3 linked regions of the Homo sapiens genome follow. The protein of the gene in region 2 purifies or fractionates together with the protein of the main gene of each other region. This does not show direct contact. Each region holds a gene or a part of one and is shown on either strand. Other genes may lie near its edges. The genes, in order: SPSB1, ZFPM2 and SPSB4.

Region 1 (3,651 bases), on a different chromosome or scaffold from region 2:
TTCACAGTCATCTTGATCACCTTTCCCTTCCACAGATATCATACTGGGGCTGGGCACGGTGGCTCACTCCTGTAATCCTAGCACTTCAGGAGGCCGAGGCAGGAGGATCGCTTGAACTTAGGAGTTTGAGACCAGCCTGGGCAACACAGTGAGACGTCATCTCTCTCTCTCTCTCTCTCTTTTTTTGAGATGGATTTTTTGCTCTTGTTGCCTAGGCTGGAGTGCAATGGTGCAATCTCGGCTCACTGCAACCTCCGCCTCCCGGGTTCAAGCAATTCTCCTGCTTCAGCCTCCTGAGTAGCTGGGATTACAGGCATGCGCCACCACACCCAGCTAATTTTTTGTATTTAGTAGAGACAGGGTTTCACTATGTTGGTCAGGCTGGTCTTGAACTCCTGACACCAAGTGATTCACCCGCCTTGGCCTCCCAAAGTTCTGGGATTACAGGCATGAGCCACTGCGCCCGGGCCGACATCATCTCTATAAATTTTTTTTTTTTTTAAATTAGCCAGGCATGATGGTGTGTGCCTGTGGTCCCAGCTACTTGGGTGGCTGAGGTGGGAGGATCGCTTGAGCCTAGGAGGTCAAGACTTGCAGTGAGCAGTGATTGTGTTACTTTACTCCAACCTGGGCAACAGAGTAAGACCCTGTCTCAAAAAAAAAAAAAAAAAAAGGGTCTCATGCTGGTCCATTACATTGATGTCATCATGCTTCATTGGACCTAGTGAGCAAGAAGTCGCAACCACTGTAGCCTTATTGGTAGGACATTTACATGTCAAGCGATGGGAAATAAATTCTACTGAAATTCGGGGACCTTCTCCCTTAGTGAAATTTCTCGGGGTCCAGTAGTGTCAGGCCTGTGAAGGTATCCCCTCTAAGGTGAAGAATAAGTTGTTACAGCTTTCCTCCTGCAACCAAGAAAGAGGCACAATGCCTCGTGGGCCTGTTTGGACTTTGGAGGCAACACATTCCTCATTTGGGTGTGTTACTCCAGCCCATTTGCTGAGTCACCCTAACGCTTCTAGTTTTGAGTGGGGCCCGTAGCAGAAGACTGCAACAGGTCCAGGTTGCTGTGCAACCTGCTTTGCCACTTGGGCCACCAGCAGATCCAGTGGTGGTTGAGGTCAGCGGCAGACAGGGAGGCTGCTTAAAGCCTTTGGCAGGCCCCTGTAGATGAATCGCAGTACAGGCCTTGGGATTTTGGAGCAAGGCCCTGCCATCATCCACAAATAACTTCATTCCTTTTGAGAGACAGCTCTTGGCCTAATACTGGACCCTAGTAGAGACTTAATGTTTGACCATCAGCCACGAAGTTGCCATGTGACCTGAGCTGCCCATCATGAAGTGGGTGTTATCTATGATCTGACCGACCAAACCAGACATTGGGCATGTGTGGCAGAACGCTGCCATCGAGAGGAAGTGGTATATATGGGATCAGGTCTGAGCAGGTCCTGAAGGCACAAGTAAGTGACATGAGGAAGTGGTCCAAAGGCCCATGGTTCTTACTTTGCCCACTGCCTTCTCTCTCCAGCCTGTATCTATGGTCTCCTGGGGAGTTCCCTCTGATCGATTGACAGTGGAAGAGAAGACTTAGTCAGCCTGGTTTGCAGATGGCTACAGATGGCTCTGCACTATATGAAGGCACAACCCGAAAGTGGACAGCTGCAGCACTATAGCCCCTTGCTGGGACACCTCTGAAGGATGGGGGTGAAGGGAAATCCTCCCTGGCAGAGCTTCGGGCAGTGCACCTGGTTGTGCACCTTGCTTCGAAGGAGAGATGGCCAGATGAGTGATTATATACTGATCCATGGGCTGTGCCTGATGATTTGGCTGGATGGTCAGGGATTTGGGGACTTGGAAAGAGTATGATTGGAAGATTGGTGACAAAGAAAGCTGGGGGCCTGGCATAGTGGCTCACACCTGTAATCCCAGCACTTTGGGAGGCCAAGGTGGGAGGATTGCTTGAGCCCAAGGAGTTCGAGACCAGCCTGAGCAACATAGTGAGACTCCCCGCCCCCGCCATCTCTACAAAAATAAAAAATTAGCTGGGCGTGGTAGCTCATGCCTGCAGTCCCAGCTACTTGGGAGGCTGAGGTGGGAGGATCACTTGAGCCTAGGAGGTTGAGGCTGCAGTGAGCTGTGATTGCTCCAGCCTGGGCAACAGAATGAGACCCTGTATCAAAAAACCCAACCAAACAAAAAAGCAATTGGGGGAAGATGTATGTGGATAGACCTGAGTGCGCACAGGACACGGATAGACCTCCCGAGTGCGCACAGGACATGAGGTATGTGGGTAGGATGACCTAGGTGGATTCTCGTCAGCCTCTTTCCCTGGCCACCCCTGTCATCGCCTGGTGGGCTCAGGAACAAAGTGGTCATGGTGGCAGAGATGGAGGTGATGCATGGGCTCAGCAGCATGGACTGCCACTCACCAAAGCCGACCTGGCTATGGCTACCACTGGCTGCTAGTCTGCCAGAAGCGGAGACTAACACTGAGCTCCAGTATGGCCCCATTCCCCGGGATGATCACTGCACCTGGTGGAAGGCACATTGGACCACTTCTGTTTTGGAAGGGGCAGCGTTTTGTCCTTACTGGAGCAGGCACTTATTCTGGATACAGATTCGTCTTCCCTGCACACAGTGCTTCTGCCAAAGTCACCATCCATTGATTGACAGAACACCTTTCCCACTGTCACGCTGTCCGTGTAGCACTGCTTCCAGGGAGCTCACTTCACAACCAAGGAAGTGTGGCACTGGGATCATGTGCAGGGAATTGGCCGGTGAGCACGAGCCCACTGGTTTCGCCTATCATGCTAAGTGGAACTACGGTCTTGTTATTGCCTTTATTTGGAAATTAAGTATGGTTTAAGAAGATGCCAGTGGGTGCCTATGGGTGCCAGTTGGTAAGGGGTGGACCTGTGATGATTGATTTTGGATGTCAACTTGACTAGATTAAGGAATACCCAGGTAGATGGTAAAGCATTGATTATTCTCTATGCTTCAGTACACACTGAGCCTGTCCCTTTTCTGCTGACAGGGAAGCCCAGTGGTTTGACATTGTGTAGAATGATCGGGCTGCCCCAGATGTGTCTGTGAGGGTGTTTTTGGAGGACACTGGCAATTGAGTCACTCAACTGGGTGGGGAGGATCTGCCCTCCATGTGGGCAGGCACCATCCAGTCAGCCGGGGGCCTGGAAGAAGGGTGAATCCTGGCTCTCTGTCCCGGAGCTGGGATGCTCTTCTCCTGCGCTTGGATGTCAGAACTCCAGGTTCTCTGGCCTTTGGACTCTGGGACTCGTACGAGTGGTCTCCGGAGTCTTTGACCTGGGACTGGGAATGACCACGTTCCCCACCATCCTGAAGCAGCTGACTTGAAAGAAGGGCAGTAGAGTCTTTTGAAGTTGCAATTACAATGCCAGCTAGGTGACAATACTTTGTAGGGCTGGGTCAGGGGTCTTCAAAAGGCTCTATGTACTCTGTATCAGCATCCAATATATGGTGCTGGTTTCTCCCGTAGCCAGGATTCACGGGTCCAGGAATCAAGGGGAGGAAATGGGAGTGGCACTGCGCATCATATCCCCTAGGGACCCGCTAGCGAAATTGTTGCTTCCTGTTCCTGTGACTTTATGCTCTGCTGGCCTGGAGGTCTTG
Region 2 (3,651 bases):
ACCAGGTGCAGTATTGCTACTCTTATATTTAAATAGATCTTATATATGAATTAAATTCATACTTGCAGCATTGAGTTTAGGGTTTCGATTTAGACTGTGCCTTTCAAAAGATAAAACTGATTAATACTACCTCATTACTTACAATACTGCTTCCAGTAATTTTGTTCATTCTTTATAAAGTATTGCATTTAACAGCAAAGGTTTAAAAATTGAGACAGAGCTGCATCAGCGAAAGAAAATACAAGTACTATACAAGAAAAAAATTGCCATCTTCATTTAACATACAGGTTCAGGATTAAGAAAATGGACGGAAACATACAGCTACATACAAATGCAAAGCCTAGTGACTAAGAGACTGTATCTGCTAAAATATAAAGTGCAAACAGAGCCTGATTATCCAAGAATTGAAATCTTAAGGCGAACTTATAGCATGTGTATTTAGAACATCTTTGCAAGTTATATTTTAGCATATACATATATCTGCAACAGCATATAAGAAAAAATCAAGATACACAAGTGCTTTTGAAGCTATTTCTAAAATGCTTTTCTGTATTGTGACTATTTTCTTTAAAAGCTACTATACAGTGCAAACCATATGTGCTACACAATAACTATACAATAACATTACAAATGACTTTAATATAAAGTTTTTAAATAAAAAATAACATAACCACAGCTATGAATACTGCTGGTAAAATAAATTAATTTTTTTGAAAATGGCACCAATAATACACTTTACTAATGGACTGTAATGAAATTACACCTTAAGTCTTCAACTCAGCCATAATGAATTATCTCCTGATTGCCCAGATGTAATTCAAACAGCTTATTTTTTTTTCTGGACTGGTTAGAACAACATACTAAACACTGATACCAAAGGTGACTGATGTTTAGTTAGTTCATTTGACATGTTCTGCTGCATGTGATGAGCAATAAAACTTCTTGTGAGTTATAAAGTTTGAAAGGTTGTTGAACTGGATATCACATAGCCGGCAATATTTCCCACTGGTTGGAGCCTGGCTGGAACCATTCACACCTTTTGCTATACTAGACAACTGTTCCTCTGCTGAGGGAATTCCTGGTGAGACATTCTCATTGGCAGCTAATGGGTTCTCAGAGATCCACGAGGGAGATTTGTGGTCGTCTTCGTGCTGAGGATTCTGGGAAATGTTCTCTTGCTGTGGGTTGGCAGCAGGTCTCTCATCTTGTTTCAGTCCACCATTCACTATTACCATTCCTCGATTTTTGGGCAACAATGGCAGAGAATCTTTCTTCAGCGCAGCACACCCATTTGAGGAAGCCTGGCCTTTAGGAGATTCATTTTCTGCATTTCTGCTTTGCTCGATGTCAGTGTTATGGATGACAAGAGAACCAGAAATATAATCACTTGGCTTGATTCCATAATATGGAGAAAGCTGGTCGGCTCCTTTTGCTTTCTTTATTGCTCCAGGGTAAAGGCATTGTGGAAGAAACAAATGTCTGTTTTCTTCTTTTGTAGCAATGAGCTGAGCAGCTTCACTAAAGACCTTCAAGCCTTGCAGGGTTGCTAGGTGGGATGAAAATAAGTTTCCATTGGGGGAAGGCTGCTTCAAATTCCCATTTTTCTCACATTTTATTATGCTTCTTTCGTAGCTGACATCAGGGCTGTTTCGTTCGCTTTCTGGATTCGGAAACACTTTGCCGTCCAGTTGACCCAGGTCATTACGCTGATGTGCAGTAACCGGGCAGAAATTCTGCTTGTGGGCCAGATAGTTTTCTACCTTATTGAAACTGATCTTGCACACAGTGCACTCGTGATAGTCCAGCAGCCTTTTGGGAGACGTGGTCGTCCGCTCAGACTGAGATAAACACTTTTTGCTGAGATCTATGGGCACGTCCATCTCTAGGCAGGAAACACTGGAATGAGTAGTATCACATTTGGAAACTGGAACACACTTGTTGATCGTCAGAGAAGTTTCCAAGTGTTTAGAGACAATTCCTGGAAAGATATCACATCTTGGGTGGTAGCACTCTCCTAGCCCTTCTGTGGGTTCTTGAGTGGAGGTACAAGGATTATTGAGGTTGGCTACGTCAAGAAATCTCTGCTGAACCAGTGGAGGCCTTTGTTCCTGCTCAGGTAGGCACATCTCATACATCTTTCTGCGCTTGCGTGTGCGCATGGTTCTCTGCATGGCAGGCACTTTGTTGGAAGCAGACCTCTTCAGTGGAGGGTCGTGGCGTGTAGCACAGTAATACTGTTTGTGGACCATGTATGTTTCGTGCCGGCTGAAGGTAATGTTGCAAGCTTCACAGGTAGTCTTATTTGGGTCACTTTCCCCATCCACTAAGGGGACACTGGGATTTTTCACATCAACAGGTTTTCCATTAATTTTGTCATCATTGTTACTGGAGGTGGAGAGCTTCTTAGTTTGAGTGGAAAAGTCCTTGTCATGGCCCTTCCCATTTGGCCCAATTAAATCTAAGACAGTGGAAGAATTGATGCAAGATGTTTGAAGAAGTGGATTCTCAGGATCAGCAGAATGAGCAGCTGGGTTGAGAAGGTTTATGGAGGTTTGGCCAGTGTTGGGACTCAAAGCTTCAGGCATCTTTTCTGACACACTAGGGAACTCTGGGGACTTAGCCATCTGCTGCCATCGGCTGCTGCAATAATGCTTTTTGTGCACTAGATAATTATCCAAATTATTGAATGTTATGTTACACTCAAAACAAGTAGCCCCCTTGGGCATCAAAGGGCTGTAAATGACGGGAGGGTAGCTACTACTGCCATGCCTCAGTCGCCGATGCACCAGTTCAGACATCTTAGCTAAGATCTCTGAAGCTTGAGGGACCATGGTGATATCTTGGGGGAAAGAAAACTGAGATAGGAAAGGGCCCACAGGGAAAGAAGGCCCAATATTAGGCTGAACTGGAGATGAGGCAAGTCTTGGGCTAGAGGGCTCAGACTTTATTTTTGTGTAAGAAAAGCTTTGTTTATTTGTTGTAGGCTGTATCTCTGGTCTCTGGTTCGTGAGAAAGAGCTGAGTCTTTTTCTCACACTTGTCCAGCTCTGTGTCAGAGCTCGCATCTTTAGTCTGCATGGCCTTTTGGCTCTGGGGAAGTTCGCTTCTGGTCAATAAGTCTGTGGCTGGCTGTAAGCTGTCTTCAGTTGCACTTGGAGAGTGTTCCATGTCACTTTCTCTGGGAAGTTTGCCGCTAGGGACATGGAGCTCCTGGTGCTGCAATAACTCCCTCTGAGTCTGGAAGCCGAAATGGCAGTGATTACATCGGAAGGCAGCTTGAGTGAGATGGGAGAACAGGTGTTGGTGAAAGTTGATCACGGAATCAGCAGTGTAGCTACAGACGGTGCATTTTAGACTAGCACCAGGGGGCAGGAATTCTTCCATTTTCACTCCTAGAGAGACATACAAAATAAGAACAATGAGAAACATGTGTGTTGGTTTTTGAATGACAGGGACCTTTTCTAATGACCTAATGTTTGCAACACAATAGGAATGAAATCTTTCAAAATTTCATTCGTGATATTAACTGTTTTCTTGTGACATCTCTTACTGTGTATGATAATATTAATAGCACTTTATAGTTTTCAAAGTACTTTCATGAATATTATGGCATCAAAGTGGAATAAGTGTCAGTGTCTCCATTTTATAGATG
Region 3 (3,651 bases), on a different chromosome or scaffold from region 2:
CAATTCCATTAAATAAAGATTGTTTGTTGTTTCTGTTGGTTTTCTCACCACTGGGATTTGCCTGGTCACTATGTCTCAGAAGGCTCCAGACACTTTCCACAAGGCACTGTGATGACTAAATTAGCCCTTCTCAGGGACATAATCATCAGTTCCTAGATTTAACCCATTAAACAGAGAAAATGGAACAACATTTTGCCATTCAATGGCAATTGTAGGCAACAACCACGGAAATAAAATATGAGCAAGAATGTCGACAATTATGCCAGAGTGCTGAGCATACCAGCAGCCACTTTTCCATTAGCCTGCCACCCTTGGAAACCATCAAATGTCCCCTTCCTGTGCTCCAGTAAATGTAAATTTTGCTTGAGTAAAATCTTGTCCTTGACTTCTTTTCTGGAGAAGTGTTACTCTTTTCTGGAGTGTTACTCTCAGTCCCTCATCTAAAGGGGAGAACATAGGAAACGAGTGGACTTCAGGGCCATCAGAACTGGGGGGAACCCTGATTCTGGCTCTCTGTAGCTCTGCTCTTAAGTTTTCTTATTTCTAAAAGGAGGATCTGCCTCAGGGGCTGGTAATTACATCTCTTATTTAGAATGAATAAACTGGAAATTCTAGCTTTCAGCGCCACCTCTGAGAGCTTCATTGGGGTGTGGCAGGAAGTCTGGATTGGTGCTAGTGGGCTGATGTTGGGGAGTGTGCAAGCCCACAAGTGCCTGGCTCCTGGCCCCTCAGCTGGGATTCAACTCAGGACAGGCAGCCACGTGTGCCTCTGTCCAGAGGCCACCCTGTCTCCCTGAGTGACTCCCTCCCAAAACCAATAACCGTCTTTGTTCCTACACTTTTTATCTTGCCGGATGGTTGTGTATATTAAATGAGAGGAAGCCATAGAGTTGTCAGGGGTCAACCCCAGCAGCTTGTGGGCTGGTTTGTAGCCTGCAAGGGTATTTTGTTTGCCCATATAGACTTTTCAGCAGCTGTCAACTTTAAAAATTGGAACAGTTCACACAAGCTAGATTTCTGGGCTCTCTTGGAAAAAGTCACAAGATTCCACAACCCAGGGTTTTCATTCCCGTGAGATGACAGTCGGCTGGAGATAAGAGGCAGCTGTCCCCTTTAATAGTTGGCCCATAAGCGCTGGAATTGGGGTGTTCAGCCTCTCAAATACAGTAGATGGCCAATAAAGGACGGTTATCAGTACTTATTACTTATCAATAACTTGAGTACATGGCATTTAAGTGCAGGGACTGGGGACTTGTCACTGTCTTCCCATTGTGACTAGCTTGGGTCATTTGGTACAACCTTTGTACAGACTGGAAGATTGGTAATTGGCATCAACACTCAAAGCCCCTGTTGGGTGCCAGTCACTGTTCTGAGCACTTCACACATGTTATCTAGATCTTCACAACTGTGAGCTAGATTACTATTACTTTATTTGATCGTTACAACTGTGAGCTAGATTACTATCATCGTGATGCTTTTGCCGATGGGAGAACTAAGGCACAGCCCCAAATCACCAAGCCAGCAGAGAGTCAGGATTGAAACCCAGGTCCTGACCATTCCTCCACATTGCAGGATCCTCCCAAGTGGCGATGGAGGTGTGGCCTGCCCAGCTTCCCTAGGGCCTGGCAGCCTCTGAAAGCCCTGCCCCCCAGCCCAGCACAACTTACGGTCAAGGCCGTTGATGTAGCGCATGGTGACTTCACAGTGGCCCCACACGGCACTCACCACCGGGTACAGCTTCTTGCCCTTGAGACCTCGGAAGGCCACGCCCAGGTACTGGCCATCCACGATGAAGCTGAGTGTGCCCTCATCCATGTCCAGCACCACGAGCAGCGAGTCGGGCAGCGCAAAGGCCTCGTCGGGCCCCAGAAAGGCCGGGTAGGCCACGCCGGGCTGGTTCTTGCCGTCGTGGTAGAGGCGGCTGCGGCCCAGGTCCCAGCCCCACGACTCGGCGTCACTGCCTACCAGCGCCGTGTAGCCCACGGAGTGCAGGGGAGCACGGGCCGTGGCCACACCAACTACAGCGTGGGTGCCGCGCTGCCGAGCCGGCCAGTTGATCTGCCAGGCGTGCAGGCCGCGGGCGTGGCCCACCTTGCCGCGGATGCCGTCGGTGCTCTGGGCCACGGGGTGCCGGTGGAAGGTGAGCCGGTCGTCGTCCTTGACGAAGACGTTGAGCGAGCGGTCCTCGGGGTTCCACGCGTGCCGCAGCTGCACAGCCAGCCCCGCCGCTGGCATGTCCAACAGCTGGTCCAGCCGCGCCGGCCGCCCGGGCTCTGCACCCCGCAGCTCCCGCTTGGCCGGCCGCAGCGCCGGCTCTCGCACCTCCACTGACTTGAGGCTCCCCGAGAGCTTCTGGCCCATGCTTCACTGCGGGGAGGAGGCCGCTGCAGGCCACCGCTACCTCGTGGGAGCCTCCACTCCCCGTAGCCAGGAATGGGCCACGGGGCTGGGAACCAGGCTTCCGGACGGTAGACCTCCACAGCCTCTACCGGGCTGCGGCAGGGGCCCAAGCTCCTGGAAGGAAGCAAAGGGCACGGGTTATAGCAGCAGCATCAGCAGCCAGTTGCCAATCCCTTCATTTATGTCCATGCCTTGGCTGAGCCCTTTGCATGCACAATAATAGTAATAATTCGTACACTCATATCTGGCACTAATCTAGCACCTGCCATATGCCAGTGTTCTAAATTATTTATGTTTATTAGTTTGTTTAATCCTTAACATCTCCCTATAAGAGATATACATTATTATTCACAATTTACAGATGAGAACACTGAAGTCAGAGAGAGGATAAGCGATTAGCCGAAGTCCCACTGCAAATAAGTGACTGAGCCAAGATTCAAACCAAGGTCATCTGGCTTCAGGGTCTGTGTTCCGGACCTAGAACAATCATAGGGAGTCTGATTTTAGAAATAAGGCGTGAGCCCAGAGCAGTTGTGACTTGCTCAAGGTCAGAGCCTGGATGAGAACCCAGGTGCTTTTGATCCCAGGGGACAAGCCTTGTGCCAAGGCTGGGGGGCACACAGCTGCTCAAGACACAGGGCTGTAGGGTGTGGCCCATTGGTTCCCAACCCTGGAGTCCTGGGGAGCCTAAATAACCTCCTAAAATGTAGCCAGGCTTGAGCGGCAAGACACAGAACAAGGTGCAGCAGGGTCACCAGGGACATGGACATCAGGCAGCGTGGGAAGATGGGGTGAGAGCTCCATGGGAAGGTGAATGGAGGTCAATAGAGGTGAGGAGGAAGGATAAGGGAGCCGGTGTCCAGGCTCTGGAGCCAGACAGAACTGCGTCCAAATCCCTCTCTCCATCTCCTACTGTGGGTCCACAGGAAAGCCTCCTAGCCTCTTGGATACTCCAGATTTCTTGCCAGTAAAAAACATGAGGATAAAACACCTCCCTCTGGTGATGGGGGAACTTGAGAGACCATAATATAAAGGGTCCTGGAACTCTGCCGACAGGTTTTCCTCTCTGGCTCTGTTCTCTGGGCATCCCATGTGGATCCCCTCCCTTTGGATGGGTGAGCTCTTTGTTCGATCAGGTAAATACCATTAACAGCACTGACCCCAGACTGCCTTCCCTGAGACAGGATCCTGGTTTTCATGGAGAAGGAATTGGCCACCATCACTAGGAAACCAGACAGAACCCAAGGAGCT

Evidence for each region.
Region 1: the proteins of ZFPM2 (region 2) and SPSB1 purify together in Homo sapiens (affinity purification with western blotting; one study listed by BioGRID). This does not show direct contact.
Region 3: the proteins of ZFPM2 (region 2) and SPSB4 purify together in Homo sapiens (affinity purification with western blotting; one study listed by BioGRID). This does not show direct contact.

What each region holds. Positions count from the first base shown.
Region 1 is NC_000001.11:9,299,310-9,302,960, forward strand, and holds part of SPSB1 (SPRY domain-containing SOCS box protein 1), read left to right. Parts: intron 1-3,651. UniProt on the Homo sapiens protein: Substrate recognition component of a SCF-like ECS (Elongin BC-CUL2/5-SOCS-box protein) E3 ubiquitin-protein ligase complex which mediates the ubiquitination and subsequent proteasomal degradation of target proteins.
Region 2 is NC_000008.11:105,800,787-105,804,437, reverse strand, and holds part of ZFPM2 (zinc finger protein ZFPM2), read right to left. Parts: intron 3,392-3,651; coding exon 900-3,391; 3' UTR 1-899. UniProt on the Homo sapiens protein: Transcription regulator that plays a central role in heart morphogenesis and development of coronary vessels from epicardium, by regulating genes that are essential during cardiogenesis.
Region 3 is NC_000003.12:141,064,815-141,068,465, reverse strand, and holds part of SPSB4 (SPRY domain-containing SOCS box protein 4), read right to left. Parts: intron 2,515-3,651; 5' UTR 2,362-2,514; coding exon 1,668-2,361; intron 1-1,667. UniProt on the Homo sapiens protein: Substrate recognition component of a SCF-like ECS (Elongin BC-CUL2/5-SOCS-box protein) E3 ubiquitin-protein ligase complex which mediates the ubiquitination and subsequent proteasomal degradation of target proteins.